2 linked regions of the Homo sapiens genome follow. The protein of the gene in region 2 purifies or fractionates together with the protein of the main gene of each other region. This does not show direct contact. Each region holds a gene or a part of one and is shown on either strand. Other genes may lie near its edges.

What was found. The genes of interacting proteins can lie anywhere in the genome.
Region 1: the proteins of TAS2R50 (region 2) and HK3 purify together in Homo sapiens (affinity purification with mass spectrometry; one large-scale study listed by BioGRID and IntAct). This does not show direct contact.

The regions. Positions count from the first base shown.
Region 1 is NC_000005.10:176,881,504-176,885,846, reverse strand, and holds part of HK3 (hexokinase-3), read left to right. Parts: coding exon of another isoform or gene 1-21; exon of another isoform or gene 22-36; intron 37-1,029; exon of another isoform or gene 1,030-1,103; intron 1,104-1,712; coding exon 1,713-1,808; intron 1,809-1,977; coding exon 1,978-2,077; intron 2,078-3,719; coding exon 3,720-3,903; intron 3,904-3,999; coding exon 4,000-4,155; intron 4,156-4,311; coding exon 4,312-4,343. UniProt on the Homo sapiens protein: Catalyzes the phosphorylation of hexose, such as D-glucose and D-fructose, to hexose 6-phosphate (D-glucose 6-phosphate and D-fructose 6-phosphate, respectively).
Region 2 is NC_000012.12:10,984,863-10,989,356, reverse strand, and holds TAS2R50 (taste receptor type 2 member 50), read left to right. Parts: upstream 1-2,444; 5' UTR 2,445-2,496; coding exon 2,497-3,396; 3' UTR 3,397-3,444; downstream 3,445-4,494. UniProt on the Homo sapiens protein: Receptor that may play a role in the perception of bitterness and is gustducin-linked. May play a role in sensing the chemical composition of the gastrointestinal content.

The DNA.
Region 1 (4,343 bases), on a different chromosome or scaffold from region 2:
CCTTTTGATTATTCCTTGTAAGATGTGAGAAGCAGGTGAGACTCCATGTGCAAATCGGGGGGCGGGGTGGGGGCAAGAAATATAGTCTTATTAATTTTCTGTAACTGAACTTAATTTCTGTGCTGAAGGCTGGGCGCGGTGGCTCACGCTTGTAATCCCAGCACTTTGAGAGTCTGAGACGGGTGAATCATGAGATCAGGATTTCAAGACCAGCCTGGCCAAGATGCTGAAACCCCATCTCTACTAAAAATACAAAAATTAGCCGGGCGTGGCAGTGTGTGCCTGTAATTCCAGCTACTCGGGAGGCTGAGGCAGGAGAATCACTTGAACCCGGGAGGCAGAGGTTGCAGTGAGCTGAGATTGTGCCATTGCACTCCAGCCTGGGCAACAGAGCAAGACTCCATCTTAAAAAAAAAATGTTGGGCCCACATTATTTTCAGGGGTGAAAACTTAACCAGTGTGGGGATTGCCTTCCCCAGGAGCCCCTTTGGCTCTGCAGCAGCCTTTGCTGTGCAGAATTTGCAGGGATGTGGGAACTCAGGGAGGTGCCCCGGGCCCTGCTCTTTGGGCACTTGCCTCTGCCACTTCCTCTCTTGAGTCTCGACACCTTCCTGTGCATTATCTGGGGAAGGAGGGCAGAGGCCTCCTCTGTTCTCAGATTTCTCAGATCCCTTCTGAACAGGGGTTCAGCCCAGTGGGGAGGGCATAGGACACCTGTCTCAGGAAGTCATCAGCAACCTGGGTCTGACTTCCCCCTTTGCCTCCCCTTCCCCACTCTAGGGAGAGCAGCCCACACAGGGCTCTTACTCATCATCTGGTCTCTCTCAAACGGGTTCTTTCTCTCACTCTATCACATTCTCTGCTTTCTGTTTTTGAGACAATGAGCCTAGGACAATAAAAAACGGGATAAAAGGACATATTATTGGAGGAAAACGTTGCTTACTATTTCTAAAATCTTCTGCCCCAAAGATTTCCTGACCTACCCTCCATGCTCCTCCTCTGAGCAAAGCAGTAATTTTCTCCCAACAGCTGTAGACTAATTCCTGCTCCCCCTGCCCCCTCCCTCAGAGGACGCACACTAAGAAAACAGCATTCCTTTCCAGGTAAAGTTGAGCCCCGTGTCACTAAGTTTAAGTCCCTTTTCTCACAATCTGGGCACTCAGCCTTCATCCTGCCCAGGGGCCTGGGTTCTGGCTTTTCCATTCCTCCTGCCCCTGCATTTGGAACACATGAGTGACTCGCCCATTGACACGGCTCTATCCCTGAAGCTGAGAATTCCTTCCTCTAGAGTAACTTGGAGTTCTTTCTGAAAGGGTGGGATCTGCTGTCATCTGGGCCTCTGAGCCTTCTCTGTCCTCCCCTGTCTCACACACAGCACTCACTTTACCAGCTCTGTTAATTCCTAACCCAATTACAAAGGGCCATTCCTTCCGGGCACACGTCTTAAAATGGCCAGACCCTCTGACTGTCTGGAACTAATAATGGAAAATGTAGGTTAGATGGTTATTAATAGGTTTTTGCACACCGAAAGCCTCCTGGGGAGTAGGGAGCGGGCAGAGGGCAAGGCCTTCAACCATACAGCAAAGTAGGCAAGGAATTGTGCTTGGGGAGGGTGGAAAGCCTAGGCTTGTGATGGATGCAGGTTTTGCAGAGGCAGAGTGAGCCTGAAGGGGCCTCCAGCTTCCTGCCACTTCCTCTCGGTCTCACCCCAGGGCATCCTCCTGAACTGGACCAAGGGTTTCAAGGCATCAGACTGCGAGGGCCAAGATGTCGTGAGTCTGTTGCGGGAAGCCATCACTCGCAGACAGGTAGGAGCCTGTTCTAGGGGTGCTTTGGGGCTGTGGCAGGCCTTGAGGGGAGCAAAGAGTCTCCTACTTTCTGAGGGGGGAGCCCTCTGCGGTAGAGACCTCTGGGTCCAGTGCTGGTTGCTGTGACGACCGCGTTGCCCAGCAACTAGCAGCATCCTTTTGTGTGCAGGCAGTGGAGCTGAATGTGGTTGCCATTGTCAATGACACGGTGGGGACCATGATGTCCTGTGGCTATGAGGACCCCCGTTGCGAGATAGGCCTCATTGTCGGTGAGGAGGGCCCTGCCCTTTCATGCCCCTACTGCTTGGCAATTTGCTGCCTTCTGTTGATTCCTCTGGTTGGATGTTTCCTTGGCGGTGGGGATGTGGGATTGCTCTGGTCTGACCCAGTAGGGCTCTGGAACAATCTCTTGGGCTGGCAGTTTGGAGCTTGGGTGTATAGTCCAGCTCAGTGACTGACTCATGGTCATTTAAGCTCTCTGAACTTCACTTTGCCCATCTGATAAATGAATCTGAGCTTTGGAGTTGTACAGATTTGGGTGGAAATACTAGCTTTGTGTTTCCACCTGTATGACCTTGGGCAAGTCACCAGAGCCTCAGTTTCCTCATCTCTAAGATGGAGATAAGAGTAACAATGCCTGTCTCAAGGCATCATGAGGATGAAATGGGAGGGGACAAAATACAGCATGGTCCCTGGCTCATGGTACACACCTGGTGTTTGGAGCTGGGCGGGGGCAGGGGACCAATGAGCAATGAGGGTCCTTCAGACAGTCCAAGATTCCATCCTTATTAAGCACCTACCCTGTGTCCACAGGGGACTGGACAGAGGAATAGGAAGACACATAAAACAAGAGGCAATTTCTGCCTTCTCAGAACCGACCACTCAGCAAGGGTTAAGCCCAGAACAACACGTAGCGGTCAGAGAGTGACTTGATTCTACACGTGGGCAGCAGCGAGGCCAAGATCAGGAAGGAGTGGGTCCCAGGATGAGTGGAACTTGAAAGCCCTGAAAGAAAGGATTTGGCTCTGTTGGGGAGGAGGGATCCCACAGCTCCTGGGGCATTGGTCTCTCAACACGAGGCATGTGGCAGCCTCTCTTGAGGGGGAGGTTTTTGAACCCAGCACCTGGCACGGTTAGGCACTTGGGAGAGGCATGCCCAGGTTGCTGTGTGCATAAACAGCTGGACAGAGGAGCTCCAGGTGGGGCCAGCAAGGAGCCCACCTTCCTGGAGCTGAAGCTGTGTCAGAGAAAGGAAGGAGACGCCCTCATCCAGGGTGCGTCCTCTGCCTGGAATGCCTTTTTCTTTCTGTGCTTCTTGGATTCAGTCACTTCCTCTCTGTTGCTTTCCTGATCCTGTTGGCAGAGACTCGCCCCGTGGTCTGGGCTCCCACGATGCTCTCCTTGGTGCTTCCACGGGGGCACAGAGGCTCTGTCAGAGCTGGCTATTCATTGCCTGACCTCTGGCCAGACTGTGGGGCTCCTCGTCTCTGATTTCTCTGTGTCCCCTGCTCTTGGCCCAGCACCTCTTAGTTGGATTAAGGGCCTGGCAGGCCGGTCCAGGGAGCTTCGGCCTCTCAACCGCAGAGAGCTAGGGGCGAGGGCGGGGGATGTCACATGTCTCCCAGGGGAATGACAGGACAGCTGGGCATTGTAGGAGCACTTGGGGGTGGCATGGTGGATGCACTGATGGTGATGTTGGTGGGAAAGGCAGTGAAGGTCCCCAGGGCTTGGAGCTGGCAGGGTCTGCACGAGGGATGTCGGGAAGGAAGAAGGACCAGGACCAGGGACAGGCTGTGAGCATGAGAGGTAGAGAGAGTGAGCCCGAATCGTTGCCATCTCGGTATGGGAAGTGCTCAGAGGGTCCTTGTCTACATCAGTAAGTAGCTTCCACGTTGTCTGGCCTCTCTGCAGGAACCGGCACCAATGCCTGCTACATGGAGGAGCTCCGGAATGTGGCGGGCGTGCCTGGGGACTCAGGCCGCATGTGCATCAACATGGAGTGGGGCGCCTTTGGGGACGATGGCTCTCTGGCCATGCTCAGCACCCGCTTTGATGCAAGTGTGGACCAGGCGTCCATCAACCCCGGCAAGCAGAGGTGTGGGCTGGGCCCAGGCAGTGGTGGCTGGCTGTGACCGGTGCTGGGGATGGTGGCTGGTGGGGCCTTCTGCCGAGTGCACACATGTTCATGCAGGTTTGAAAAGATGATCAGCGGCATGTACCTGGGGGAGATCGTCCGCCACATCCTTTTACATTTAACCAGCCTTGGCGTTCTCTTCCGGGGCCAGCAGATCCAGCGCCTTCAGACCAGGGACATCTTCAAGACCAAGTTCCTCTCTGAGATCGAAAGGTGCCTGAGGCCTACATTGCCTCCCCCACTTCAGGGGGTCTTTCTGTCCACTGTGGGGGATTGCTGGCCATGGGTGGTGACGAGGTCTGCTCTGGAGGATGAAGTGGGAGAAGTCACGACCCACCTCCCTGTGCTCTCTTCCTTCCTGGCCCCCAGTGACAGCCTGGCCCTGCGGCAGGTCCGAGCCA
Region 2 (4,494 bases):
CAACTAAAGATGAATGAATCATTACAACACATTCATACAATGGAATAATATAGAGAAGTGAAAAGAAATGAATCACATAAAGATGCAAGTATGTGAGTAAATTTCAGAAACGTAAAGGTGAGTCCAAGAAGCCATGAACAGGAACATACAGGACTACACCTACATATGGCTTAAAGGTTTAAAGTAGGTAAAACCGTATCATAGAGTTTAGGGTTGCATACCTAGTTGTTAATGTATAAAGAAAATCAAGGCCAGGCGCGGTGGCTCACGCCTGTAATCCCAGCACTTTGGGAGGCCGAGGCGGGTGGATCACCTGAGGTCAGGAGTTCAAGACCAACCTGGCCAACATGGCAAAACCCTGTCTGTACTAAAAATACAAAAAGTTAGCTGGGTGTGGTGGCATGCGCCTGTAGTCCCAGCTACTTGGAAGGCTGAGGGAGGAGAATTGCTTGAACCCGGGAGGTGGAGGTTGCAGTGAGCTGAGATCGCGCCACTGCACTCCTGCCTGGGTGATAGAGCGAGACTCTGTCTCAAAAAAAAAGAAAATCAAGGAAATGATCATTCTAAATTATGGCTATTGCTCTCCTCAGGGTATGTGAAGAAAGGTGTAGGGGCTTGGAGAGTGGCATGGAGGTGGACCTAGGCTATTTGCAATGTGACATGTTTTGCCCTGCTTGATGGTTGCATGAGTGTTTATGACACATTGCTATGTTTACCATCTTAGTTTTCACCCATTTCTAAGTGTGCATTATAATTGTATTTAAAAATTATTAACTGGAAAAATGCTCCATAAAGAATATTAATTATTCTGCTCATTGTATACCTTGCAAAAAATTCACCATTTATACACATTTTTATACAACTCTTAGAGAGTTGAAGTAGGAACTTTATTTTAGCTGCAACATATGGAAATTTCAGATGATGCTACCTGCAGCACACAAATCCTTTCAAACATTTTTTTATTACCTTTAATTATCTACCTCACATGACAAAACTTTGCCACTCCCCATCTATTTTTCTTTTGGCTCCTGAATTCCTGACAAAACAGGGGCAAATATATTTCCCCACACTCTTGGTGTAGCATAGTAGCTGTACCAGTTAGGTTTTTCTACTAGAGAAACCCTCCAAAACTACGTTAGATATTTTTATCTCATATATCTTTGGATTCAGGTTTTCTAAGCTGGGTTTGGTGGATAGCTCTGGTGACTTGAGATGGGCCAAGTTCTGCATCTTGGAGCTAGTTAGACTTTGGCCAATTTAGGATGGATCAAGTGCAGGCAAACTGACTCCATTAGTTTTCATTCTCATTCTGAAAACAGTGTACTAGCCAGGTGATAATCTCATGATCAATGGAAAAGAGCAAGAAACCCCAATATGGAAGCCATCTCAAACCTCGGTGTGAAATCTACCAATTTTCTGTTCATCAAAGAAAGTTGTGTGAGTGAGCTCCGAGTCCAGGGGACAGATAATCAACCTGCTTATGGTGGGAGGATACTGCAAAATTATGTGTCATAGGGTGTGGTACTCAGGAATATTTACAAAATTGTTGAACATTTTAATTAAATAATAAATACTTAAACATTAAATAGACTTGAGAGTAAGTTTACCAAATGCTTAAGCATGAAAGATATGTTTGATGTTTGATACATTTTTTTGGGGGGGGTCTGAAAACCCTCAGTTTTCACTGGGAAAATAGGACTAATTTCACGTGGATGGCCTCCAGGAGACTTACTTCCCATTTTGGAAAGTATAAGAAAATAATTCCTTCCATCTCTTAGGGGTGTCACAGTCTCTCTCTCTCTCTCTCTCTCTCTTTCTGTGTTTGTATCTATTTATGAACATGGTAACAATAAATTCACACAAAAGTATTGGGTTAGCAGCAACCAGATTTTAAGGTGTTTTGGTCTTCTTATGGTTCCCAAGAAAACCTTGGATGATTTTGATTTAAAAGTTTGGATTCTGTCTGTTTAAATGTAGCATAAATAGTAAATCCGTTATGGTGGTGATCCTAGTTATGACTAAGGTCTTTTAAAGAACTTAGACATTTACTGTATGAACGATGGACTCGGGGGTAAAATTTCCCTATCTAACAGCTGAAGTTGCTGAACACAAATTACGTATCGGTTAAACAAGGAAAACATTGCAAAATATTGAAAGAGAATATGTCTTTATTTGCATGCTGGTAAATGAAAATTTAGGTTTCACTTCAACTTCATTATGAATAATTCAAGCCCATCACAAGAACGGACATTGAATGAATGAGTTAATTTGAGCTGTTTTGAAAATAAGAATGTTTTCCGTAAAGATGACATCAAACTCATCCATTAGCATAAGCTGGTACTTTCTTGTTTGACACTGGTCACAGTGTTTAAAAGTAAAAAGAATGTTACTGCACATTCAGAAATCAGATGCACATAAAATTTAAGGTCAGAGTATTAAAGAAATCACAACCAGTGATATTAGGCTTGCATTTTCTTTCTTTTTTTCTGCTCAGATATGATAACTTTTCTATACATTTTTTTTTCAATTCTAATAATGGTTTTATTTGTTCTCGGAAACTTTGCCAATGGCTTCATAGCACTGGTAAATTTCATTGACTGGGTGAAGAGAAAAAAGATCTCCTCAGCTGACCAAATTCTCACTGCTCTGGCGGTCTCCAGAATTGGTTTGCTCTGGGCATTATTATTAAATTGGTATTTAACTGTGTTGAATCCAGCTTTTTATAGTGTAGAATTAAGAATTACTTCTTATAATGCCTGGGTTGTAACCAACCATTTCAGCATGTGGCTTGCTGCTAACCTCAGCATATTTTATTTGCTCAAGATTGCCAATTTCTCCAACCTTCTTTTTCTTCATTTAAAGAGGAGAGTTAGGAGTGTCATTCTGGTGATACTGTTGGGGACTTTGATATTTTTGGTTTGTCATCTTCTTGTGGCAAACATGGATGAGAGTATGTGGGCAGAAGAATATGAAGGAAACATGACTGGGAAGATGAAATTGAGGAATACAGTACATCTTTCATATTTGACTGTAACTACCCTATGGAGCTTCATACCCTTTACTCTGTCCCTGATATCTTTTCTGATGCTAATCTGTTCTCTGTGTAAACATCTCAAGAAGATGCAGCTCCATGGAGAAGGATCGCAAGATCTCAGCACCAAGGTCCACATAAAAGCTTTGCAAACTCTGATCTCCTTCCTCTTGTTATGTGCCATTTTCTTTCTATTCCTAATCGTTTCGGTTTGGAGTCCTAGGAGGCTGCGGAATGACCCGGTTGTCATGGTTAGCAAGGCTGTTGGAAACATATATCTTGCATTCGACTCATTCATCCTAATTTGGAGAACCAAGAAGCTAAAACACACCTTTCTTTTGATTTTGTGTCAGATTAGGTGCTGAGTAAAAGACCTGAAACTCTCAACTCTCTAGATTCACAAGTGGGACATTGTGTGTGTATTCTAGGAGAAAACAAACTGATAGTGTCTGGAACATTTTATACTTTTTACTGTTTTTTCTGTAGTGTATGTTTTTGAGTATTTTCTGAAAGCATACCTAGAAAAGTCTTTTACCTAAAGTTAGTCTAAAAGTGTATCTATGTGTGTGCATCTGTATATGAAAGACTTAAAAGACATTGACAATAACATAATGTTAATCATATTTTCACAAGATGCCAAATTATAGAAAATATGGTAAGAAGTTTTTCAGAATCATGAACCCATGTATATTTCACATATACATTTCATATTATCATGTTTCACTTGAAAACTGTGTGATCTTTACTTATAATTGTTAAGAAGTGACACATTATCTCAAAATCTTTGCTCTTTTCCACTGATTTTTACCACACATATGTACCACAGTGTGCTTAAACATCTAAATTTTTTGATAGTAAGCACACTCAATTCTAAATCAATAATGAGGTTTCATCTTTGGGGTAGTTTTTATTTCATCATGAATTCTAATTTTATGTTTAGTTTATAGCCAGCATAATTATTTTCAGAAAAAGATGCACAGAATAATATTCAAGGATGACAAATATATTTAGAACACATTTTGTATATGTCTACCATAAACAGTACTGAGGAATAATAGACTTAATACAAATATGTGAACATTTGAGAAAAAAGTCATTTCTATAATAAGGATGAAGAAAGAAACACCGTGATGACTTATGTTGTCATAAGTCTCAACATGCAGTTAGAAAAGTCATTTCTTCCAGTTTTTGAGTTAAAGAAAACCTTTTTTGAAGTTGAGATCTGATGTCAAGTATTTCAGGTTTTTTTTTCTAAACCACCTCAGAGTCCCTGAATTGCCAATGATCTCCTCTATCTTCCATACTTGAAATTCTTTTTAAACTTCACATAAAAGAACTTGAGTCTTCCCTACCTTAGAAAAATACTCTATGTAAAAATAGTATAGAAATTATAAAAATCATTTGAATTAAACTTTTTGCAAATGTTAAAATGGCATCTATGAAATCTATGTATTAATGATAGA